Regions from separate parts of the Homo sapiens genome. Here all the other regions are linked to region 1. Evidence: fine-mapped expression QTL. A gene starts in region 1. Each other region holds a variant in brackets. All regions are shown on one strand. Distances are from middle to middle.

Evidence for each region.
Region 2: its variant is fine-mapped to the expression of MGAT4A in whole blood (TOPMed, PIP above 0.99).
Region 3: its variant is fine-mapped to the expression of MGAT4A in whole blood (TOPMed, PIP above 0.99).
Region 4: its variant is fine-mapped to the expression of MGAT4A in whole blood (TOPMed, PIP 0.96).
Region 5: its variant is fine-mapped to the expression of MGAT4A in whole blood (TOPMed, PIP 0.94).

Annotation. Positions count from the first base shown.
Region 1 is chr2:98,728,356-98,733,459 of GRCh38, reverse strand. It overlaps MGAT4A (alpha-1,3-mannosyl-glycoprotein 4-beta-N-acetylglucosaminyltransferase A), which reads left to right and starts at 2,328. Exons shown (of 16, transcript NM_012214.3): 1 at 2,328-2,412. It overlaps LOC107985922 (a long non-coding RNA gene), which reads right to left and starts at 2,179. Exons shown (of 2, transcript XR_007087150.1): 1 at 1,765-2,179. RefSeq lists silencers at 1,380-1,674, 1,781-1,970, 1,991-2,320.
Region 2 is chr2:98,697,305-98,702,408 of GRCh38, reverse strand. The region is part of intron 2 of MGAT4A (alpha-1,3-mannosyl-glycoprotein 4-beta-N-acetylglucosaminyltransferase A); the gene reads left to right. It overlaps LOC124906050 (a long non-coding RNA gene), which reads right to left. Exons shown (of 3, transcript XR_007087149.1): 1 at 3,301-5,104; 2 at 279-530. Among named protein-coding and RNA genes, the nearest start is that of MGAT4A, 31 kb to the left of the region's middle. The variant C/T (reference allele first, on the strand shown) is at 2,533.
Region 3 is chr2:98,671,777-98,676,880 of GRCh38, reverse strand. It overlaps MGAT4A (alpha-1,3-mannosyl-glycoprotein 4-beta-N-acetylglucosaminyltransferase A), which reads left to right. Exons shown (of 16, transcript NM_012214.3): 4 at 1,706-1,846. Among named protein-coding and RNA genes, the nearest start is that of MGAT4A, 57 kb to the left of the region's middle. The variant T/C (reference allele first, on the strand shown) is at 2,822.
Region 4 is chr2:98,650,946-98,656,049 of GRCh38, reverse strand. MGAT4A (alpha-1,3-mannosyl-glycoprotein 4-beta-N-acetylglucosaminyltransferase A) reads left to right here. Exons shown (of 16, transcript NM_012214.3): 8 at 530-605. Among named protein-coding and RNA genes, the nearest start is that of UNC50, 45 kb to the right of the region's middle. The variant C/A (reference allele first, on the strand shown) is at 2,472.
Region 5 is chr2:98,754,877-98,759,980 of GRCh38, reverse strand. No RefSeq gene overlaps it. Among named protein-coding and RNA genes, the nearest start is that of LINC02611, 14 kb to the left of the region's middle. The variant C/T (reference allele first, on the strand shown) is at 2,333.

The DNA of each region.
Region 1 (5,104 bases):
TCTGGAATCAAACAGACCTGGATTTGAACTCTGATTCAAACATTTACTAATTGCCTAAATTACTGTTTGTATCTGTCAAATGTCTTAATTTCTCAGGGCCTCAGTTTCTTCGTGAATAAAATAGGGATAATAGCTCCTGTTCCATTTGGTCTTTTGGGTAATTCATGAAAATGGCTTGGGGGCATTCTCCATGATGTTATCAAATGGCAGGACTTTCTTCCTCTGCAAGAAGTAGTTTGCTTGTCTGTCATTAAGAGCACTGTAATAGCAAAGCCTAGAATCATCTATTCCTAGGAGATATTTTAGGCAGGATATATCCAACAATGTATTAAAAGCTTTACCTTGGAATGGTCTCAGTCTTTACCTCTGTTTACATCTGGTCATGAATCAAATTGCCAGCTTGCTACTTGGCAATGGCTTTGTCATAGAATACAGGAAACCTGGCTTTCAGGTCCCCAATGTATTCGTCCGTTTTCATGCTGCTGATAAAGACATACCCAAGACTGGGCAACGGACAAAAGAGGTTCAATGGAGTTACAGTTCCACATGGCAGGGGAGGCCTCACAATCATGGTGGAAGGCAAGGAGGAGCAAGTCACTTCTTACATGGATGGTGGCAGGCAAAGAGAGTTTGTGCAGCAAAACTCCCTTTTTTAAAACCATCAGATTTCGTGAGACTTATTCACTATCACGAGAACAGCATGGGAAAGACCCTCCCCCATGATTCAATTACCTCCCACCAGGTTCCTCCCACCACACAGGAATTGTGGGATTTACAATTCAAGATGATATTTGGGTGGGGACACAGCCAAACCGGAAGTAGAGAGAAAACACACTCAAAGTAGAGGGAAGAGCTGTCATTGGATATCATGGCTGTGATCCCCCAAGTTGTGTCCACAGTGCTGGGCAGTGGACAGATCTTTTGGTATGGTTCCCCTAAACTAGTAAGAGACTATGGGAGCAGGGATGTTACGTGTCTCTTCCTGAAGTTTTAAATTAGCCGTCATGGAGAAACCTCAACATGGGAAGGCTGATAACTCCATGCATGTTCTAGCTGATTATTAATTATTCTTATCTTGAGATAAAAATAATGGAATTTATCGGAGGTGGGGAGGGGACCCTGTTCTGATTGATGCCTCTTAAGAGTTTTCGATTATTGAAATTACTGTTTTCTGAAAAGAATCTACTTATTACTTTGGGAGTTTGGCAGGAACAAGGCTGCCTCCTTGATCTTTGGCCCCTCAATTCCCTTACAGGTTACTCGGTAGGATTGCTGTAAGGATTATTGCGGCAATAAAGTTAACACATCCCTTGTTTTTGAACCATTACCAGCTGTGTGACCTTGGGCAAGCCCTTTCACCTCTCAGCTAGTTTCCTCTTATGAAAAATGGGGAATAAATTTAAAACATGAGATATGCAATAAACGATCTAACACCCATGCCTGCTATACGGTTGCCTGCTATACAGTTAAGTATTCAAAAGAGGACGTACCCAGGGGTAGTTACTGTTAGCACAAGTCCTATGGATACTATGAAAAACAGGGACAGACCACCCAGGCTTTCTACAAACGAGTCAGTTTTTTGCCTTTGAAGTTAACCTCTAACCTTGTGAAACGGCGACAGATAAGGACATGGGGTTCAAGAAAACGGGGCATAGTGGAAAATCAGGGGCATTAGCACCCAACGATGTGCGTTGAAACCCTAGTTGTTTTTCTCCTTCCCAGTTGCTGAAATCAGCCCTTCTGGCCGATTCGCGGGGTTCTCACCGGGAAGTTGGGGCTGTCGCGACCGTCCGCGGGGCCTCGGGAGCTCCTGTGGGGCTGGGCCCGGGACCTGTCCCCGGGGAGGCCGCCCAGTTTGGGCGGCCCGGAGCGGGGCGCGCCGCTGGGAAGGGGCCGGGTCGAGGCAGGCAGGCGCCTGGGAGCTGGGGCAGCCCCGGGTGGTCGGGTCGCGCGCCGAGGCGCAGGCCGAGGGCTCGCCCGGGCCTTTGTTGGCCGCCGGAGCGGTCCCTGCACGCGCCGGGAGGATCTCAGCCAGATGTGGCAGCGGGGCGGCGGGGAGCAGGCCGGCGCCCAGAGCTGGGACCCGAGACCGCGGCTCCGCTCCGGACCTCGCCGTGACACCGATGAGCCGGGCCAGCCTCCCGAACGCTCCGCAGGCTGCGTGGCGGCGCCCCTAAGTGACAGTCGCGCGGGCCACTGGTGGGGCGCGGGGCGCGGGGCGCGGGGCCCGCGGGGCCGGCCAATGGCTGGCGGGGTCGGGGCGGCCCGGCGGGGCGGGGCGGGGCGGGCGCTCCAGCGGCGGGGGCGGAGCCGGCGGGGCGGGCGGGGCGGCCCGCAGCGGCGGCGGCAGCGGCGGCGGCGGCTACAGCAGCTCCGCCGGCAGCCGCGGGAGCACGGCGACGCCAGCGGCGGGTGAGGGGCTCGCGGCGGCAGCGGCGGCGCGCGGGGGCGGGAGGGGGCGCGGGGCGGCTGCGCGGAGGGCGCGGGAGTTGGGGGCGGCGCCGGCGGCCGGGCTGGCGGCCCCGGGCTGCGGGAGATCCACCTGCTGGTAAAGGAGCCTACTGCGCCGCGGCCCGGCCGGAGCTCTGTGCGGGGGAGCTGTTGGCGCCTCTGGGCGCGGGGCCGGCTCCGGGAGCGGCTGGGCCTCGGGGGCGGGCGGCGGGGCGCGGGCCGGGCCGTCCTCCCAGCGTCCCTGCCCCGCACCGCGCACCCCTCGGGGTCGCGCGCCCTCTCTGCGGCCGGCTCGGCGCCTGGTGCGTTCCTGGCGCTCCCCGGCGTGGCGGGGCTCGGCGACTTTGGGGGAAAGTGGAGCAAAGTGCTGATCCGGGGGGTGCGGAGGGGGAGGGACAGCTGCCTGTGGGACCCGGGGGCTGCGCGGGAGTCGGCGCTTTCGCGGGGGCCGCGGGGCAGGTGGGCGGGGCCGGACGGTCCGAGGCGCAGGGGCAGGGGCTGCTCCCGAGGGGACCGGCCGTGCAGCCTTCGCAGGGAATTTTCACACAAAGTGAAGGGCTGCGGGGCCCGCGTGAAAGAGCAGCCCCCGTTTCCCCAGGCCTCAGCTCTCTCCGTAATGAGGAAGCTGCAGTAGGACCCTGAGGCTGGGTCTCGGTGACTCCACCAAGTGTGCCAGGTGACATCTCGGAGGCGAGCTTTTCTGAGCTGGCAGTCGAGCCACTTGCACACCCGCCTTTATTCCTCGCAACAGTGTGTTTCTCTGGAGCGGTTTCATTGCCTACATTCCGCATTGGAAAATAGAAGCAGGCACAATGTATGCTTTGAATGCTTTCCACGTATTTTGCTGTTGTGCTTTTGCTGTTGGACAGATTATTTGATAAAAGATAATGACAGTCGTTCGTTGGAACGTAGACTGTAAATTTAGAATAAAAATATGCGTTTTGTGGTTTATGTTTCTTTTTCTGAATGTTTAAAAAACAGTTTGATGAACAGGTTATCTTGACATAGATTTCTTTAACCCACACGTGTAAACCCGAAAACGCACTGGGCGATGACATTACGTAAGCTGTATTAAAGAAAACTACTGACCCGTTTATAAATGGCAAATAAATGAATTTTGCCACAATTGTGGTGTGTAAAGTTATATAGGCTTACGTCATGGATTTTATTGATTCCAGATATCAGGGATTATTGTGCCTTTCATTCTTAAGTCACCTCTACCCTGTCTGTGGGATGCTGATTAAGGAAGATGCCAAACGTTCGGCAAAGTGTTCTCAGCCGTGGACTATATTGAGTATTTCAGAGAACACTTTAAAATAAGTAAAGGTTTTGTATCCAATAATAAAATGAAGACTGAAGCCCTTAAAGGATTGCTAACAAAACAGTCTGATGTCTAGAGTTGAAAGTTCCATTCACCTTTGGGAGGGTGGAGAAATGACTAGCAATTTTAGCCACTACCTTTTTTTGTTGTTGTTAAAGATTCAAACGTGTTAGATTATAGTCTCCGAGAATATTAAGGGGCTAGATTAAAATTTTTGCAAATGTGGACACTAATAAAAATGTGGGTCACCTGTGTCTTACAAGCCAGCCTGTGAATTATGTCTCATAATTGAAGAGTGAGTAGATCCTTGGTTTTACTCTTGTCCGAAGAGTTTCTTCACTTGTGCCGTGCAGTTAAACTTATTAGCTGGGAAACCCTAATTAAAAATGTATGACTACATTCTTACTGAGTAAAACACGCATATTTTTCTTGCAAAATTTCAGGGCTTATTTGCTAGTAGAATTTATTGTAAGTATCTTCAGAGTTTCATAACTTACTGGATCCAGTATTTTTTTTTTTTCATATATTAGGGGTAGTATATCAATAGTTTACTTTGGTTTTAGAGTTCATTTACTTGTCTCTATGCATTTCTACGGAATGTTTTTACAAGCTTTATTTGTATTTAGTAAAACTTTTAAAATATCCTTAACTATATGATGTGCGCTCTACCTCCCCGTTATTATGAATTGAGTGCTTACTCTAATAACCTGTATGCTTTTTAGATCTTTTACTAGAACAAAATTCTTTCTCAAGTAAAATAGGGCTAAGTAGATAGCAGCTGAAAGTTATAAGTATTTTAATATAATGCCACACCGGGATTAATGTTCCAAGTTATATAATTCATAGAATTATCACCCGTGTTTTTATAATCAGAATTCATTATTGGGTGCTTATTGATTTAAGACAATTAGAGCAGTCTTGCTATGAAGTTTTTTTTTTTTTTCAAACTGAGTCTCTGTCACCCAGGCTGGAGTGCAGTGGTGTGATCTCGGCTCACTGCAACCTCTGCCTCCCAGGTTCAAGTAATTCTCCTGCCTCAGCCTCCCGAGTAAGCTGGGATTACAGGCACCTGCCACCACTCCTGGCTAATTTTTGTATTTTTAATAGAGACAGGGTTTCGTCATGTTGGCCAGGCTGGCCTTGAACTCCTGACCTCGGGTAATCTGCCTGCCTCAGCCTCCCAAAGTGCTAGGATTACAGGCATGAGCCACCACACCTGGCCACTGTGAAGATTTTAATTCTAAACTGTAGACGTGGGCATGTTTGATGTTAACTTGTCTTAACTGTAGAAGGTGAATAAGTTCAATCTTAGAGAACAATGATAACTTCTGC
Region 2 (5,104 bases), 31 kb after region 1:
GTCTCCAGCTGGTGTGCCAGTCCATTGCTTGTCCCAGATAGAACAGCAGCCTCATGGCAGCAGGCCTCTGGCCCTCCGTGCTGCTTGCCTGCCTCTGGGCTTGCTGCTCTCACTGACAACACTGCAAATCCAATGAGTCCCTGCCAGCAGTGGCAGTGAGTTTGCTAGTTTTCAAGGCCTGCCCCACGCCTGTTAAACTTCTGAATTGACAGAGCTGAGGGCAGGGCAGATGAGGGCAGCTCTTGGCAGGAAAAGTCACAGACTTGTGCTGTTCTCACCTGGAGTCCAGTGGGTTTCATGAATAAACACTTCTCAGTTTGTTGAATGTCTTGCTTGCTTTCCAGAGCACCAACTAGGTTGTTTTTGACTCTTGACCAGCTTTATAGTTGCTTTGTGGGAAGAGGATTTGTGAGCCTTCTCACTCTGTTATGCTAGAAGTTAGACATCCCCTGGGAAGTTCTCGAACGTGCCCCTAGGTAATTCTGATTGGCAGCCAGGGTTAGGCACCAGCACACCTGGGACTCTTTGAGCTGTAAATATACACATACAACATCAGGGCATAAGAAAGTTTTTGCCATATTGACTTTCTAAAAAGAAGAGTCTTGAATGTTTCAGGTGTTATAAATAAGGACCTAATTTTAAAACAGGACCTAACTAGGGTCTAGAATGTAGACCTAGCCTCTGCCAAATTGGTCAGCAGCCTTTCTTGCTGATATGTTAAAGTTTGCCGATTTAGACCTTGCACTTGGCATGGTATTATTTTATTTTATGTTCAGCTTAGTTGGCTAGCATCCATTTCCTGAAACAGACTCCTAATCTAATTTTTCCAGGTTGGAAAGCTTCTTAAGCAGTACATGTGCTGTGCTCAGAGGTTGTCTGGAATCTGTTTGAGGTATTCTTAACTCTGAAAGGATATTATTCATGGCCGACATATGAGAGGGGACTACACTGAGAACATTGGGTTATTACAGAACATTAACTGATTTTTTTGTGCTGCTTCAGAAACATTACTAATCAGGTTTTGGGGATGTGAGTAATTGTCCAGTTCTAGACCCATTGTGCAATGGATACAGTGGATAAAGTTGCACTGGACTCTGAAACCAGTAGTGGACAAGAATAGCATAAAAAAGAGACTAATAGATCAGCCTTACCTAATAGGATGAAATCTTAAATAAAATACCAATGAACTAAATCTTTAGAGCAGTGTTAAACATTTTTGGTATATTTTCTTTCATTTTTTCTGGATTAGTGGTTCTGAGCATGTGATCCAAGGACCTGTGGGGATCTCTAGACCCTTTCAGGAGGTTCATGAAGTGAAGACCATTTTTATAATAGCCTTTTCCACTCTCATAAGAAATAGCAGAAGCAGATGAGAACTCAGCTGTATTCTATTCAGCTGAATTAAAGAGATGTGAGCAAATGTCACTCTTTTCACTAATTTTTTTAAGAAAACAATTATTTTTAATAAAATGCATTATTTATGCTAACATGTAATAGATTGTTTTTTTTTTTTTTTTGAGACAGAGTCTTACTCTTGTTCCCCAGACTGGAGTGTAGTGGCGCGATCTCGGCTCACTGCAACCTCCGCCTCCCGGGTTCAAGCGATTCTCCTGCCTCAGCCTCCTGAGTAGCTGGGATTACAGGTGCCCGCCACCACGGCTGGCTAATTTTTGTACTTTTAGTAGAGATGGGGTTTTGCCATGTTAGCCAGGCTGGTCTCAAACTGCTGACCTCAGGTAATCCACCTCCCTTGGCCTTCCAAAGTGCTGGGATTACACGCATGAGCCACCGCGCCCAGCCAACATGTAATAGACTTTTAAATGAATTTTAAATACATCTTTAAAAAGTTAATTGGTTTTGATTTGCAATATGGTAAATGTTGATTGATATAATTCACATAAACAAAAGGTCTTTGGGGTTGTCTAATTTTGAAGACAGTGTAAAGGGGTTCTGAGACCTACCTTATAGATAGATAGATAGACAGATAATGCAATATATACTAATATAATATAGAGTATATACTAATATGATATCATATATAGTAAATACTCATATGGTATTTATAGTATATATGAATATATTATATATAGTATATATTATATATATAGTCAACTAAAGGAAAAAATCAAGCTTTTAAAGAATTAAAGTTAATTTTACTCAGAAGTCTTGCTAAGGACTATAGCCCGAGGCTGGCAGCCTGGGAGTGGTCCTTTGGAGAGGTCTTGTGAGATGGCCCCTGCACAGTGTTCCAGCCACTGCTTATATGCAGGTAGTGCAGGACCATTCCAGGTAAAATCATATCGCACTTGCTCAGAAAGTTCCATAAAAGCGGAATCATGAGGTTTGGGTATGAGAGGATATCTGGTTATAGCTTGCAGAAGCATACTCACTAACCCCGTCAGATGTTATCTCACGTGCAGAAAAAGGCAAGGACGGGTCACGTATCCTATAAGAAACATCGTGACTCAGGCAAGAGATGTGGTGGGCCATGTGCTCTACCCTATTTTGTCTTCAAAACATTCTTCCAGGGAG[C/T]ATTTTGTCACATACTCGGGGTTCAAGCGGAAATGGCAAACATGGCTTCCTATGTTTGCTAATTTGTCTCACAGTACTACATATGTGTCTCCCTCAAAAAATGGGATTGGCCTCATACTGTGCATATTGTATAATGTACATTTTTTGCTTAATATCACAAATGTTTCCCATACCATGAATTGTAGTGGGTCCATAATATTCCATTTTACAATTACCATAATTAGCTTAATCTTATAAGTAATGGTATAACAAATTTTATGCATATTATTGATCAATTTTTAAATACATTTTTTTAGTTTAAGAGGATTTGCCTCTTGTTACTTATTGCTTGGCATTCTGTAAGGCAATGGCATTTAGGGGGAAAAAAAAAAGACTAAAATATGATTCCTGCTGTGCAGAAAAGAGTTAACATGGCAAATCTGAGACTGCTAATTATCAGAAAGCCTGGCTTGAAAGGCTGGTCCTCGGCTGGCCTCTGGGAACTTGGCTGATAAACCCTGATAATAACCTTTCCCTATATGAGAAGAGTGGCTCAGTGTGCCTAAACTATTTGTACAAGTTGTGTGGTTATGCTGAACACCTGGTTTCCTTATTGGAGTCTGAAATTTTGGTATGTACTAGGCAGCGGGTGCCTATGTGACCAGCCCGCAGTAATAGCCTTTGACATTGAGTCTCCAATGAGCTTTCGTGGTAGACAACACAACACATTGCACGTGTTGTCAGCACTCGCTACTGTGGGAAGGAAGTGTGTCCTGAGTCACTGCATACCTGGTTTCTTCCAAACTTCTCTCCGTGTGTCTTTTCCCTGTGCTGCAACTCAATGGTGAGTCCTGTGAGTCCTTCAAGTGAATCACTGAACCTGGGGATAGTCTTAGGAACTCCTGACAAACCTGCTGTTAAGGAACTCATAGCTGAGGAGGGAAAAAGAGATAAGTATGTAATTATAGTACAGTTTGTGTTGATATAAAATAGTGTAGTTAACAAGATAAAAAGGAGCTAAAGAGAGGATAGAGGTCAGAGAAAACTTCACAGGAAGACAATGAAAGAGTATTTTGAAGGATGCATGGAATTTTTTCCAGTAAAGAAAGAGAAGGTGGATCTGGTAGGCAGACAGCATGAACGTAGAGCAATGAAACTCATAGTAAGTGGGCTTGGAGCACTCCAAGCAGCTTGGTAATACTGAAGCAAGAAAGATCCTGGGCAACGTGAGGAGATCATGTTGGAGAGTTAAGTAGGTAGTCATTGAAGGGTTTCCATTTAGAAATGTAAGGTACAGAGGATAATGAAGGGGAAAATGAAAAGGCATGGGTAACAGTTTCGTGTTCCTGGTCAGGAGATGAATAAAAGGAGCGTTGATACTGGGATCTGTGTAAAGAAGAGAGGATTAATGAGCATTAATGTAAGCAAATGTGAGGAGATTTCAGAGCATATTTATTTATTTTTAATTAATTTTATTTTTTGAGACGGAGTCTTGCTCTGTTGCCCAGGCTGCAGTGCAGTGATGCAATCTCAGCTCACTGCAACCTCTGCCACCTGGGTTCAAGTGATTTTTTTCTGCCTCAGCCTCCCAAGTAGCTGGGATTACAGGTGCACATCACCACACCTGGCTAATTTCTGTATTTTTAGTAGAGACGGGTTTTCACCGTGTTGGCCAGGCTGGTCTTGAAACTCTTGGCCTCAAATGATCTGCCTCTCTTAGCCTCCCAAAGTGCTGGAATTTTTTTATAGGCATGAGCCACCACACCCAGCCAGCTTATCACTACTTCTGGTTCTTCTGCACTTGAATCATCAAATGCAAATATCAGTTTTTGAAAACTGACAGCTAACAATTTTGAAAAGAGAATGGCCATCTTTTCAGTTGTAAAACATTTTATTAGGTTTATAAACAGCAATTAGAATGATCAAGTCAATGAAAAATTTTTTAACATTCGCTCTCTTTCTAATCACTTTTGTGTGTACATCAACCTTTAGCATTTGTCTTCTTATGAACCCATCCAGTTAATCTTGTTGTATGAATACACAGTAGACAAAAGAGTACTGTTACACATCCTCTTAGTAAGGCAGTGTTCTGGGCTCCTCTGACAAACGTTGTGGTGAAGTCCTTTCAGTTGAATGACCCACTGGATGAACATGCCCTATTTTCTTTTTGCCCTTAATAATAATTATTTGTTCGTTGGTTCTTTTCTGCTTTGCTTTTTCAAAAACCTATTTAAAAATAATTGTAGAACTAAAGGAAGCTGCAAAGACAGAGAGATACAGTGCAAACTTCACCCATCTTTCCCTGACAGTTACTTCTTGGGATAACTTATGTGTATATAATGTACAATATCAAAATCAGGAAATTGACATTGGTATTATGAGTGTGGATAGTTCTGTGTCCTTTTATCATGTCTAGATTCTTGTAACCACCACTATAGAACAATTCTATCACCACAAAGATCTCCCCTGTGGTGTCGATAGTCACACCAACCCCTGCATCCCCCATCATCCCTAACCCCTGGGAACCTAGTCTATTATCCTTCACTATAACTTTGTCATTTTGGAAATGTTATTATAAATGGAGTCATACAGT
Region 3 (5,104 bases), 57 kb after region 1:
AAACCTGATGCCAAGTGATTTCTACTAACATTTTTTGTTTCCTTCTAGTATTTTTTCCGTGAATGTTTTTCTTCAAAATTGTTATTGTGTATGATGGCCTGATTTTCACTCTTGAAATTATACTATGAGCATTTTAAAACTTTGTCATTAATCTTCAAAATATTATTTTTAGTGGCTGTGAATGTGCCAGCTATATATACCACAATATATTAAACATTTTTTTCTACAGTTATTCAAATGGGTTTTTCTGGGTTGTTTTTCCCCCCTAGTTTATAACTCTGATGAACATATTTGTATATAAAGCAATCATATTTCTGGTAACCTTTAAGTTATTTTCATTAGATTATGATCTTCTTAGAAATAGGATCTGTGTTTTGATGACTTCATTTTTGAACAAATGATACATTTGCTGGAATAAAATAGATAATCACTAAATATTTGTTGAATGCATAGAAGCTAAATTCTTAAAAGGGAAATTACTGAGTAATAGGACAGAAATGTTTTAAGGTTTTTGCTGCTGTTTTGAATAGTTGGAACATTTATCTTGTTATCACCAATATTTAATATATTTAATCTGCTAATTTCATAGGTAGAAATTGATATAATTTGTAATTGTTTCTTTACGCATGAGATTAAACTTTAATTTTACATATGACAGTCATTTGCATTTCTTTCGTGAATTTTTGGTTCTTCTCATATTTTTAATGAAGTTGAGGTAACAAATTCCTACTGCTAGCTTGCTTTTTTCTAAGGTTAAATTCAAATTTAATGAAATTTTAAAACAATATTATTTCTACTACCAAGTTTTTATTTCATATCATTAAATGATTCATTGGTTCCTCTAATAAAAACAGAAACATCCTATGTATAAAATGGAGTGAGAAAAAAAATGAAACTATTTGAAAGTTGTGATCTGTACTGGATATTCTCAACTTGTGCTGTTTATATTATTTTACTTGAAGTTTTCAGAAAAAAAATTCCTTCCATGTGAAATTTTGATAACATGTAATGCATAAAGAAAGTGAATGGTTGAGCATGATAGCTCATGCCTGTAATCCCAGCACTTTGGAAGGCCAAGACAGGAGGATTGCTTGAGCCAGGAGTTTGAGACCAGCCTGGGCAACATAGTGAGACTCCCGTCTGTACAAAAAAAATTTTTTTTTTAAATTAGCTGATGTGGTAGCATGTGCCTGCAGTCCCAGGTACTCAGGAGGCTGAGGTGGGGAGGATCTCTTGAGCCTGGGAGGTCAAGGCGACAGTGAACCGTGATTGTGCCAGTGGACACCAGCCTGGGCTACAGAGCAAGACCCTGTCACAAAAAAAAAAAAAGAAAATGGAAGTGATTGATGGTTAATGTACTTATTATTTATTACATTTTCATAAGCCAACAGTATATTTAGAGTCTGTTTGGCAAACTTGAGTTCTAATACATTATAGAGGTGAGCCCTTAGCATCCCACCTTCTTACGGTCCTCTAGCTGGCCATTTTGGTTTCCTTCAGCCAGTTTTATCAACATCATGACCTGTGAGACTTTGGCTTTGAAAGTGTCCTTTTCATCTTAAATGGAGATCTCATTCACCAGAGTGTGAAACTAGGAAAGAAAATTCTTTAGTTCTAGTTCTTATTAATTTTTACTGCTGGTTTTATAAAATCAGCAACTTCTGTAAGGTAATTCTTGTATATTAATTATACTTCTGTGTTTCAGATAATACCCTAAAGCTGTTAAAGGAGTTAACAAGCAAAAAATCTCTTCAAGTGCCAAGTATTTATTATCATTTGCCTCATTTATTGAAAAATGAAGGAAGTCTTCAACCTGCTGTACAGATTGGCAACGGAAGAACAGGAGGTATGTTTATTTTGTTTCTTACTGCAGTTGTACTACTGCTGTTAAATGTGTTTTGGACTATTATGTTGACCATCAGAAGTCTGGGAGGTCAAAAAATGAAAGTTCTTTCTTTATCTGTGCACATCAGATCATTCTAAACTCCATGTTGAAAGGAATTGGACATTTTCCTTCATAGACCAAAGTAATACAGCTGAAAGGGATCATGTGAAATCTAGTTCAGGCCCCATCCCAGGCAGACAAATGTTGACACCTTTGTCATTTTTCTGTTTAAGAAACTTGGGAAGTACAGAGATGACTTGCCTTGTATCTTATTTCAAAATTAACAGCTCTTTTGGTCATGTCATAAAGGTTTTTCTTATGTCTGCCCCACTTTTCCTACAGAGGTGTAAGTAGATAGTAACTTTTATGTAACTTTTTATGGAGTAGTAGAAATACTTTGATTTGCTTCTTTTTTCCTAATTTATTCAAAAGATAATATATAGCTTATTTTTCTCTTCTTGTCAGAGGCAACAGAACTTCTTCAGTTTTCCTTATAGAAACTATTTACCACTCTTTTTGTTTGTTTGTTTGAAGCAACGTAAGGACAGATTTATTGAAACCAAAGTACACTCCACAGAGTGGAAGTGGGCTTGAGCAAGCAGCCCAAGAGCCGTTTACCACTCATACATTTGATTCCGCTGTTTTGACTTTGTTAATCTTTTCTTTGTAGATTTTAAAATGCAGAGGGCAGAATATTATTTTGTTCTTCTGTAAGTTTTTAACAAGTGATGAAATGATAACTTCATAGATATCAAGATTCATTTTTGGGTTAGTGTTTTTGAAAAGCTGGGTCTACTTTTGATTCAATGGGATTCTTAAGTATTTTGCTGTCTTATTTGGGGGATCACATCTTCTCATTGATCTATAAATGTAAGCTTTTACATTCATCTTGTCTTAGTTCTGCTGTCTTTCTATTTCATTAATCAGTTGAAATAA[T/C]ATACTACCTTCCTTCTTAAGGAGGTGGAAACTCTTAAAATAGCATGTTGAGACAAACTCCATCTTTCCTTTCTCTAATGATTCAAAAAATATTTATTGAAGCCAGGCATTCTGCAGGTGCCAGGTATACAGAGACTAACAAGGTGTGTGTGGTACTTTGTTTTTTGTTTTTTTTAGAATGTTGATTGTTAATTATTTTTGAAGCTGATATCATCTCTCCCTTTAATAGTCACTTTTTGGGTAAGATGTCTTAAGTAGTTGTGGGTTTGTTTGTTTACACTATTTCTTCATTCATAAGAGTATCAAATGAAAAGAAATTAGAAGTGTTTTTAAAGTCATTTAAAATGTCCAAGGTCTCTAATAGGTTTTTATTTTGTAAATGTGACATTCTCTTTCTTTTGAAGCTATGTATTCCATCCCATTTGTTTACATGACTTTATCCATTATAAATATAATAAAATCTTGGTCAACCAGCTTTCCAATAGTTAACATTCTTATAAAGCTGCTACTATTTTTGAAAGGTAGAAAAAACAGCTTGGTAGAAAAAATAACCCATATTTACGTTAAACATTTTCCTCCCTAAATCATTAGGAAAAGCTCTTAATATTTTTAGTTACAGGACCTTTTGGATATTCTAGGAAAGCTGTCAATCTCTACTTTGGAAAATGCCCATAGAAAATATAATTTTATTTGTAATTTCTGGGGTTTTATGGAACCCCAGAACTTATCTAGGGCTTCATATTCAGAACTTCTGTTTCTTAGATAAAGAAAAACAGCTTCTTGCTAAAAATTCTGTTTTCCAGTGGTCAGGCTGATTAATTAGGGAACAGCACTTAGAATAGCTAAGCCATTGTAAGGCTGAAGAGGAAGGACAGTGCTGCCGGTGGCTGCTGACCCCAGGGGAGCGGCTGGGATTCTCAATGCCCAGAACAGAAAACTGTCGGCGCACCACCCAGCACCACATCTGTATCCTTCCACCACATTCTCCAAGGCAGGCTGCGGCAAACAAACCCAGCGACTACAAGCAGGTGCAAGGGCGACTTCAGCAACAAGGGGTTGCTGAATAATTTAGGAAAATTAGTACCACGAATGACTTAATACTAAAGAAAATTGAGTTTGCAGAACAAACTGAATATGATTTAAAAATAAAGCATCAACATATTTTTAGAAATGAGGGAGGAGAACTTGCCCATAACACAATAACTGACCATTATCAAAGGATCCGTTAGAAATTTTTGTGCTTATGATTTCAATGATTATATTTAAAAATCCTACATCGAGGGACTGATATGGAATTTTAGCTAGACATAGCTAAAGATCAAATTAGTGATCAGAAAGACCGAGCTGTGTATTTCTTCCAGAATGCAGCATAAACGCATAAAGAATGGAAGTAGACAAAAGTTTTAATGTTCATCTGGTAGTCATTTCAGAAGGAGTGAACAAAGAGAGTGAAAAGAGGGAATTACCAGCTTATAGAAGTAAATTTCTTTGAGTTGAAGAAACCTTCAGGTTTTCAGGTTAAAGGGCCCATTCAGGGTAGAGCAAGAGGGCTGAGCAAAGACTCTCATTGGGTTATCTACCAAAACGGCACAACTGCTTCGTAGAGGATAACAGATAATTCTTGAAGTATTTGCTGCAATGAAAGTCCATGAGCAATTGCTATGGGCCAGGCACCTTGCCAGATACTTTGGTACACAAAATTAGATGTGGTTCCGAGTCTTGTGGAGCTTCAGCCCAGTAAAGAAAACACGTATTAGTCACATAGTCAATTATACAAACAACTGTATAATTATAACTTTAATTACCGATGTAAAGGATGCTTTGAGAATGTGTAAGAGGGACTTTTGGCCTAATTAGGGAGTTTAAGGAACTCTGAGAAATTACGTTTGGCCTGAGGCTGGTAGAATCTATCATTTACTGGTGAAGATGGGTGTGTTGGTGTTCTATTGCTGTTGTAACAAATTGCCACAAACTCACTGTGTTTAAACCACAACACAGATTTCTCATCTTACAGTTTGGGAAGGCAGAAGTCCTAACACCAGGTTGTCAAGAGGGGTGTGTTCCTTCTGGAATCTCTAGGGGAGGATCCTTTTTTTTTTTTTTTTTTTTTTTTTTTGCCTTTTCCACATTACTTTGTGGCCTCTTCCTTCATCGTCAAAGTACAGTATCTTCAAATCTCTCTGACCATGACCCTCTTGATTCTGTTGTTCCATCTCTTTCTTTCACTCTGACCCTCCCTCCTTCCTTTCATAAAGACGCTTGTGATTATATTGGGCCCACTAG
Region 4 (5,104 bases), 77 kb after region 1:
GAATTTTTTAAAGCATTCAGTACCTATTTGTGAACTTTGATCTGCGTGCAAACAGTCCTAGGCACCAGAATAGGGACCCTAAAATTGTAATTTTTGAAGCACTCATTTGATGAAACATTAAGATATTACTGAAAAAAGGGTCTGTGGTCAAGGAAGTTTGGAAAAATATGTATTAAGAATTTTTTTCCCAATAAATGTCTTTACCGTTGGATATTTTTGTGCCTCTTATGAATTAATATGTTTCTAGAAGGGGAACATGTATACATACTTACTTGATATTAGACTCATTTTTTTCCTCAGGACAGCTTGAGAATTAGTGTTCTTGGGAATACATTTTGATAAAGTCTTCATTAGAGGAAAGTGAATTTTCTTTGACTCTTCGTCCTAAGTGAGTGTGTGTGTATGTGTGTGTGTGTACACATATACATAGATGACATGTTATGTAGACATTTGACATTTATACATTTAATCTTATTTTACTAAATTTGAGTCTGATTCCTAACTTACTTTTTGAAAATGTTTATTTCAGATGGAGAACAAAGCAAAACCTAGATTACTGTTTTCTAATGATGTATGCTCAAGAAAAGGGCATATATTACATTCAGGTAAGTGTAGTTTTTCCTTTGTTTTTCATGCTTGTAAAGAAAAAGTGTTATCAAGGGTATGTTTTCATTAAAACAGGAAGTTTTGAAAGTGCAAACCCTCTGAGATCTGACAAATCATAACTATCTCAGAGCAGAGGGGTCTCCATGGTAACTGAGCATGTGGGCTCTGATGTTTCTCCACTGAGTAGGGAAGCCAGCCCTCCACTTAGCGGGGGACCTGCAACTCACTTATCTTTTTCCTCTTTTTCTCCCATTCCCCCATCTTCTCTTCCCTCTTCCCTCTCTCCACTGTCAAGAAGAACTAAGATGTCATTATTTGGCAGATTTTAAAGAGGAATTTTCTTACAATTTTTCTTTAGTGGTCTTACAATGAACTAATTTTTTTTTGTAGGCCACAATACTGTTACCACTATTTTGAAGATAATAAAATTGACATTTAATTCTAACAGTCCAATTATTTTTAGCAGCACAACAGTCCAATTTTTACCAAGAACACAATATGTCATGGGATTACAGACACGAGCTGCTGCACCTGACATGTAGCATGTTTTAAAATTAGGAAGTATGAGGCCTCCAACTGTGTTCCCTTTTTTTTAAGACTATTTTGGCTGTTTAGGGTCACTTCAGACTCCATGTAAATTTGAGGAGGATTTTTTTCTATTTCTGTAAAAAATGCCTTGGGAATTTTGGTAGGGATTGTATTGAATCTGTAGATCGCTTTAGGTAGTGTGGACATTTTAATATTATTAAGTCTTCCAATACATGAGCACAAGATGTCTTTCCATTTATTTGTATCTTCTTTGATTTCTTTTAGAAATGTTTTGTAGAAAAATTTTCCACCTCCCCAGTTAGGTTTATTCCTAAGTATTTTATCTTTTTTGATACTACAGTAAATGGCATTGTTTTCTTGATTTTTTTTTTGGATTGGTCATTGTTAGTATACAAAAATACAACTATTTTTGTGTGTTGATTTTGTATCCTGAAACTTTGCTGAAATCATTTATTGCTTGTAGTTTTTGGTGGATTCTTTAGGTTTTTCTACATATAAGATTATTTCATCTGCAAATAATGATAATTTTACTTCTTCTTTTCCGGTTTGGGTACCTTTTACTTTTTTTACTTGTTTAATTGCTCTAGTTAGGATTTCCAGCACTATGTTGACTAGTAGTGGTGAAAGTGGGACTCCTTGCCCTGCTTCTAATCTTAGAGGGAAAGCTTTCATTTGTTTGCTGCCAAGTGTGATATTACCGATGGGCTTTTCATATATTACCTTTATTTTGTTGAATAAGTTTTTTTCTATTTCTAGTTCGTCACATTTTTTTTAATCAAGAAAGTGTCTTGAATGTTGTCAAATGCTTTTCCATACCAATTGAGATGATCATGTGTTTTTTTCCTCCATTTTGTTAATGTAGTATATGTTACACTGATTGATTTTTGTGTGTTGAACGATCCCTGTATTGCAGGTATAAATCCCACTTGGTTATGGTGTATATAATTCTTTTAATGTGCATTTTAATTCCATTTGCTAGTGTTCTGTTGAGGATTTTTGCATCAGGGATATTGGTCTGTAGTTTTCTTGTGTCTTTGTCTGGCTTTGGTGTCAGAGAAATGCAGGCCTCCTAGAATGTGTTTGAAAAGTGTTCCCTCTGTTTCAGTTCTTTGGAAGATAGCTGTTTGAGGAAGATTGATGTTAATTCTTTAAGTGTTCAGCAGAATTTTCCAGTGAAGTTCTCTGGTCCTGGGTTTTTCTTTGCTGAGAGGTTTTTGATTACTGCTTTAATCCCCTTAGTTATTATAAGTGTGTTCAAAGTTTTTATTTCTCCATGATTCACCCATGGAAAATTGTTTTTAGAGGTTTATCCATTT[C/A]TTGTAGATTATCCAATTTGTTGGCACATAATTGTTCCTAGTAGTCTCTTGTAATTCTTCTATTTCTGTGATATCAGTTGTTATGTTCCCTCTTTCATTTCTACTTTTAGTTATTTGAATCTTCTTTTTTTCTTAGCTAATCTAGCTAAGGGTTTATTAATTTTATTGATCTTTTCAAAAACCAACTCTAGGTTTCTTTGGGTTTTTTTCTGCTTTTTTTTTTCTATTTATTTATTTTTTTCTATTTATTTATCTGATCTAATCTTTATTTTTTTTTCTCCCTTCTGCTAATTTTGGGTTTAGTTTGTTTCTTTTTTTCAATTTCCTTGAGGTTGAAGTTAGGTTGCTGATTTTGAGATCTTTCTTCTTTTTTTTAATGTAAATGTTTACTGGTATAAACTTCCCTCTTTGTATGGCTTTTGCTATATATCATACATTTTGGTATATTTTTTTTTTTGTTTTCGTTTGTTTCTGGATTTTTTTCTAAATCCCTTGTGATTTCTTCTTTGACCCATTGGTTGTTTAGGGGCGAGTTGTTTAATTTCCACACATTTGTGTATTTTCTGGGTTTACTTTTCTGCTATTGACTTCTAGTTTCATTTTGTTGTAGTCAGAGAAGATACATTGCATAGTTTTAGTCTTCTTAAATTTGTTGGTGGGCGGCACTGGCTCACACCTGTAATCCCAACACTTTGGGAGGCTGAGGTGGGCAGGTCACTTGAGTTCAGGAGTTCAAGAGTTCAAGACCAGTCTGGGCAACATGACGAAATCCTGTCTCTAATAAAAATACAAAAAATTCACTGGGCATGGTGGTGCATACCAGTAGTCCCACCTACTCGGGAGTCTGAGGTGGGAGTATCAGTTGAGCCCAGGAGATTGAGGCTACAGTGAGCCTTGTGCTCTCCAGCCTGGGTGACAGAGTGAAAACCTGTCTTAAAAAAAATTGTTGGCTGGGCACGGTGGCCCACGCCTGTAATCCCAGCACTTTGGGAGGCTGAGGTGGGCAGATCACAAGGTCAGGAGATCGAGACCATCCTGGCTAACACGGTGAAACTCCGTCTCTACTAAAAATACAAAAAATTAGCCGGGCGTGGTGGCGGGCGCCTAGTAGTCCCAGCTACTAGGGAGGCTGAGGCAGGAGAATGGCGTGAACCCGGGAGGTGGAGCTTGCAGTGAGCCGAGATAGCGCCACTGCACTCCAGCCTGGGCGACACAGTGAGACTCTGTCTCAAAAAAAAAAAAAAAAAAAAATTGTTGAGATATTATGGGGCCTAACATGTGGTCTGTCTTGGAGAATGTTCCATATGCTCTTGAGAAGAATGTGTATTCTGCTGTTGTTGGGATCAGTGTTCTTTATGTCTGTCGGGTCCGTTTGATTATAGTGTTGTTTAAGTCCGATGTTTCCTTATTGATCTTCTGTCTGATCTATCCATAACTGAAGTAGAATATTGAAACCCCCTAGTATTATTGTGGTGGTGTTTGTTTCTTCTTTCAATTCTGTCAGTGTTGACTTCATATATCTGAGACCTCTATTATTAGGTGCATCTTTATTTAGAATTGTTATGTCTTTTCAGAGATTTGACTGACCCTTTTATTATTGTACAATGTCCTTCTTTGTCTCTTGTGACAGTTTTTGTCTTAAAGTCTTATTTTGTCTAAGTATGGCCATCCTTGTTTTCTTTCAGTTCTGGATTTCATGAATTATCTTTTTTCATTCTTTCACTTTTAACCTATGTGTGTCTTTTGATGTAAAGTAAGTTTCTTGTAGATAGTATATTAATAGATCTCATTAAAAATTTCCATTTGGCCTAACTGTGTCTTTTAATTGGGATGTTTGACCCATTTACATTTTTAGTGATTACTAATACAGAAAGACTTACTATTGCCATTTACTTTATTTTTTTGTATGTCTTGGAACTTTTTGTCTATCTTTTCCTCTCTTGCTGCTTTCTTTTGTGTTTCGTTGATTTTTTAAAATAGTGACGTATTTTGATTCCCTTTCTATTTCCTTTTGTGTATATTCAATAGATACTCATTTTGTAGTTACCATTGCAATTACATATCTTAAAGTTATAACAGTCTATTTATTACTTCAATGACAAATAAAATCTCTACTCTTTTACATCTCTGTCTCCCCTGCACTCTATTTTACCAATGACACCAGTGACCGCTTTTTATATTGCATATACATTAACTCAGATTTATAATTATTGTTTGTGCTTTTAGTCTTTAAGAAGTGATTTTAATGTGATCAAAAGATTTGAAAGGGGTACCAGATTTTAAAGTGATTCATGCACCTGCATTACCTTACTACGTCTATATTTATCTGTATATTTACCTTTACCAGGGAGTTTTATATTTTTATATGGTGCTTTATTACTGCTTATTGACCTTTCACTTCAACTTGAAAATGTTCCTTCAGCAGTAGGGCAGGTCTAGTGGTGATGAACTCACTCAGCTTTTGTTTATCTGGGAAAGTCTTAATTTCTTTCTTTCTTTCTTTCTTTTTTTTTTGAGATGGAGTCTTGCTCTGTTCCCCAGGCTGGAGTGCAGTGGCACAATCCCAGCTCACTGCAACCTCCACCTTGCTGCGCCCAGCCTGAACATTCTTTTTTTCTTTTCCTTTTTTTTGA
Region 5 (5,104 bases), 27 kb before region 1:
GCAGTTGTTCAATTTCATTCAGACCAATTAGGCTATATTTTTAGTATGATTATTCAAAGCATTGGTACTCCTTAGACAAAATCTTAGCTAACAAAAGTTAGCTGGAATGAAAATTTTACAGAAAGTAGAATATCTTTGTTACCAAAGGGAAGTTTATTTTGATAAAATTAAAAAGGCCAGGTACAGAATAACATGCAACTTAAAACTATCACGAGTGGGACAGTGTAGACGTGAGAAGAAGATGCCTTTGGGGCCAATGGGCCTGCATTCACATTTTATTTTTGCCACCCTTTTCTTTGGTGACTTTATTACCTTTAAAATGGGAAAGATACACATGTACCTTCCAAGTTACAGGACGGATTTACATTCTTGGCACCATAAATATTAGTTCCTTTTTTTTCTACATCAGTGAGAAAGGATGTGGTAAAACAGGGGGAAAAAAAATAGGCAAGGCCTTTGTGTTTTTGCTTTTTTTGTGGTCTAATTTCTTTTAACAAATAACAGTTGTTTTTCTGATTAGGAAAGTAACACATTCATTGTAGAACACTTGGAATATTCAGAAAAAAATGTATTTTTTTTTAAATCGCCAGTAATTCTACCACCAGAGATAAATACTATGAATGTTTTTGTTTGCACTAAGCACACCTATGTGATTGGGATAATATTATTACCTAAAGTGTTGTGTTCCACTTTTCATGCATGTGCTCTTTTTACATTCTATTTTATTTTGAGACAGGATCTCACTCTGTCACCCAGGCTGGAGTGCAGTGGTGGCATCACAGCTCACTACAGCCTCAAACTCCTGGGCTCAAGCAATCCTCCCACCTCAGCCTCCCAAGTAGCTGGGACCACAGGTGTGCACCAACACACCTGGTTAATTTTTTGTATTTTTTGTAGAGACAGGGTCTCACTGTGTTGCCCAGGCTGGTCTCCAGCTCCTGGCCTCAAGTGATCCACTTGCCTTGGCCTCCCAGAGTGCTGGGATTGTAAGTGTGTACCACTGTGCCTGGTCTGTACTCTCGTTTTTAAAAAGACTCCTCAAAAACGTTGGAATTTTCCTTATTTTAAAAATACTGTTGAAGAACATAACTTAATGGTTATATAATAATATTTCACTATATTGCTGTACCATGTTTTATTTAGTCCTATTTTTGGACAGCTAGGCTGTCTCCAAATTTTCTCAATACAGAAATTCTACATAATATTCTTGCACACAAATTTTGGTCCACATCTGTTGACGTCTTTAGGATAAGTTCCTAAGAGTGGAATGAGCAACTCTAAGGGTTTTTTAAGTGGTCCTGACTTATATTGCTAAATTACTTTTCCAAAAGATTATGGTAGTTGATGGCCCTACTATGAGTGAATGGTAATTTTTGTACCGTCTGGTCTCAGAACCAAACCATCAGCTACATTTTTAAAATAATGAATTGAGAATGGATGAATTGTAGGCACATATGGGGGTTCTATTTCTCTTTCTATGGGACTCTAGGTATGATTTTCCCATTTTTGTAATTAGGATATACGGCTCCAGGAAATTGAGAGTGAGCCAGATAGTTTCTGGAGAAGTCAACTGTACCGAGGCCAGGAAACACTAGTCATCCCTGAGGGTCAAACACAGTTATGTACTAAGAATGAGGAAGTCCCACACAAAGTGGCAAGATGCTGGGTTAGCCCACAGTCTTAAGAGGGAAACCTGTTCCAGACATGACTTCCGCCCTTGGCAGATGAGGCTTCTGGTTGCCTGCCAATTATAACTAGCTAGAAACAGCATCACGGAGAAACAGTAAAGCAACAGCAAGGTGGCGGCTGGAGACTCGGGCATGAGGCCCAAGGCCAGGAGAGGAGCAGCGGGTGGGAAAAGCCTGAAGGAGGGGCTGGGTCTAGACCAGCTAGCAATCCCACAGCAGCCAATAGCCCAGCCTGCTGGAGAAGAGATTTCTAGAAATGCAAAAGTTTTCACATGCAACCACGAAAGCAGTTCACGGGCGTTCCTGGCACTGTCAGGAGGAAGTCAGGATCACACAGGGTGCACCTGGAAAGCAGCTGCCCTCCCCAAGTTTGACCTGGGCTAGCAGCTGGTACTGCCATGTGGGCTCTGGGTTTTATGAAGTTGCAACACCAGAACCAGGAATTTGGGGAAGATAAAATAGAAACAGAGAAAATATTTATATTTATTTAGACGAGAGATGTGCACAAACCACAAGCCCTGGAGATGCAGGGCGTCTAAACCATTGCCATTATTTCAGTAGCTTTAGGAGAGTTCGCAAGGTAGCTAATGATAAGAAACAGGAGAAAATCATTCTCCAACCCTCACAAACGAAAATGTCTGATC[C/T]GAGCACCCGTGGCTGTCTCACTGCTTAACCCTTCCAAAGAATAAACATGAAGTACTCTTCAGTATGGCTATGGGAAGAGCACATCCTGTTGCATTAGGAAACTTTAATTACTAAGTTTGATAAATCAAAGGTTGTCATTTACATGATACATCTTAACTTCAGCAAGAGGTTTAAACTCATCTCACATAAATCACTCAACAACCAGAAAAATACGGTCCTGATGTTGGCATGAGAGAACACACAAAGAATGTTTTCAAAGGCTGATCTTGGGCCAATATAGCTTAAATTTTCATCAGTGATGATAGAGGAGGGTGCAAGAGTAAATGAATAAAAGAGACAACCCAGTATGGGGTTAAAACAGTAACTAGCCATTGAAGATAGGGGGAAGTGAGGGGTAAGTCAACAGAAATCAGTAGTATAGACATATAGAATGAAGTTTGATAGCATCACTTGCCTTTAAAAATGAACAAATTAAGAAAATAACAAATGGAGTGAACACACAGCCTAGTAAAACATTCACTGTCTGGAGTCTCCAAGAATAAGCCACCCTAGGAAGCTAGGTTTCCCATCTGAGAAACCTTAAATAACTAATCTTAGGTTTCATCCATTCGTAATGGAAAGTTTTCAAGAATGTGTCACTCATTTCTCTGCTTTTTTAAAGAATGTGATGGGCCGGGTGTGGTGGCTCGCACCTGTAATCCCAGCATTTTGGGAGGCCGAGGTGGGTGGATCACCTGAGGTCAGGAGTTCAAGACCAGCCTAACCAACATGGTGAAACCCAGTCTCTATTAAAAATACAAAATTAGCTGGGCATGGTGGCACATGCCTGTAATCCCAGCTACTCGGGAGGCTGAAGCAGGAGACTTGCTTGAACCTGAGAGGCAGAGGTTGCAGTGAGCCGAGATTTTCCATGGAGTAAATTTGCTCCATAACTTGTATACGAGAATGATCTAGGGTGCCTGTAGGTTCAGGCAAGTGAGTAGCTAGATTTAAAGTATGCCATACTTTAAGAGTTACATCAGGAGTGTCTAGCAATAAAGCCTGATATTTTAATGAGTCCCCCTGTCATCCACTGGTGTCTTTTAGTTTCTAGGACTCCTTGTACTTGGTGTGGGGTTAAAACCTCCAGATGTTGTCTTAAAGCCAGTTTATTGTTTCATCTACTAAGGCAGTTGCTGCAACTGCCCTGAGGTATCCAGGCCATCTTGAAGTGACATGGTCTAGTCGTTTAGAAAAATATGTCACTGGTCAGGGAATAGCTCCCAATTTCTGGACAAAGACACCTAGGGCAGTGCTTTGTTTTTCAGTCATATAAAGGAAAAGCGGCTTATCAAAATTAGGGATCCCTAGGGCTGGGGTTGATCCCAATTTCTCCTTGAGAGTTTTAAAAACCTGTTCACAATTACTATCCCATTCAAAAGGACCTACATCTGCTCCTTTCAGAGTCTCATCAAAAGGCTTGCCTATATGCCCAAATCCAACTACCCATAAAGAGCAGAATCCTGCCATCCCTAGGAAAGTCCACAGGTGTTTTCTAGTTTGGGGTTTTGGAATGTCCAAGATAGTTTCCCTTCATTCTGGTGTTATTGTCAGGGGTTGGAACTTATTCTGAGTATTTAATCTCTTGAGTTGAAATCTGGGCTTTGTGTGGTGAGACCCTGTACTTACTAGTTCCCAGAAAGTTTAGTAACTGAATGGTATTTTTGTCCAAGTTTCTTTTAGTTGAGCTAGTAACCAACAAGTCACTCACCTATTGGGTAATAGTGTTTTTACTTAATTGTACCATTTTAAATTCTCTAGGTAGTGCATTTTTAAACAGATTAGGGTTGTCCCTAGACCCCTGGGGAAGAACTGTCCAAGTTAATTAAGAAACTAAATGGCTATCAGTATCAGTCTTTTCAAAAGTAAAGATGAATTGTGAATCAGGGTGTACTGGAATGCAAAAAAAAAGGTCCCTGGGCTAACAGCGTGTAGGGATTGGGCACTGTAGTATGTATAGGAATGATAGTCTCATTGACAGCTCAAAGATCTTGAACAAATCTGTAGTCTCCATTTGGCTTTTTAACTGGCAAGATTGGTGTATGACAAGGAGATTCACAGGGCCTTAACAACCCAAACTGCAAAAACTTAGCAATTAGTGGTTGGATCCCTCTTTATGTCTCTGGCTTTAAGGGGTATTGTCTCTTCCATGGGTGTGGGACACCAGGCTTAAGTTGGATGCAAACTGGGGGAAGGTTTAGCATTTTGCCTGTAACTTTAGTGACCCATACTATAGGATTTACTTGGGAGGTTACTTCAACAGGTAAAGTAGGTAAGCCCCTTTGACTCTCCTCCCTTAACAAAGGAAAGGAGAAGGAACAACCCCTAGTCTGTCTTTTGATTTCCAAAAGATACCACTGTTTGCAATTCAGTTAACAATCCCTTCCCAACAAGGGGGTGAAGCATTCAGGTATGATAAGAAAGGCATGTGAGAAAACCAAAGTTGTTAAGGGATAGGTAAAATGGCATTTATGGGCTTGTCCATCTATCCCCGTGACCATACAGTTTTGGGGTGACAGAATCCCATTATAATGGGTCAAAACAGAGCAAGCAGCCCCCATGTCCAAAAGCAAGTTAACAGTCTTACCTGCCACGTCGAGGGTTACCCAGGGCTCCTTCGGAGATATGGCTAGTTGTCCAATGGGAGTTGTGGCAGAAGGTCCCAGGCCCCGTCACTCTTGGGCTTGCCTGGCTATTTCGGCCATCATTAATTTGGGTGCTGATGGCCCCCT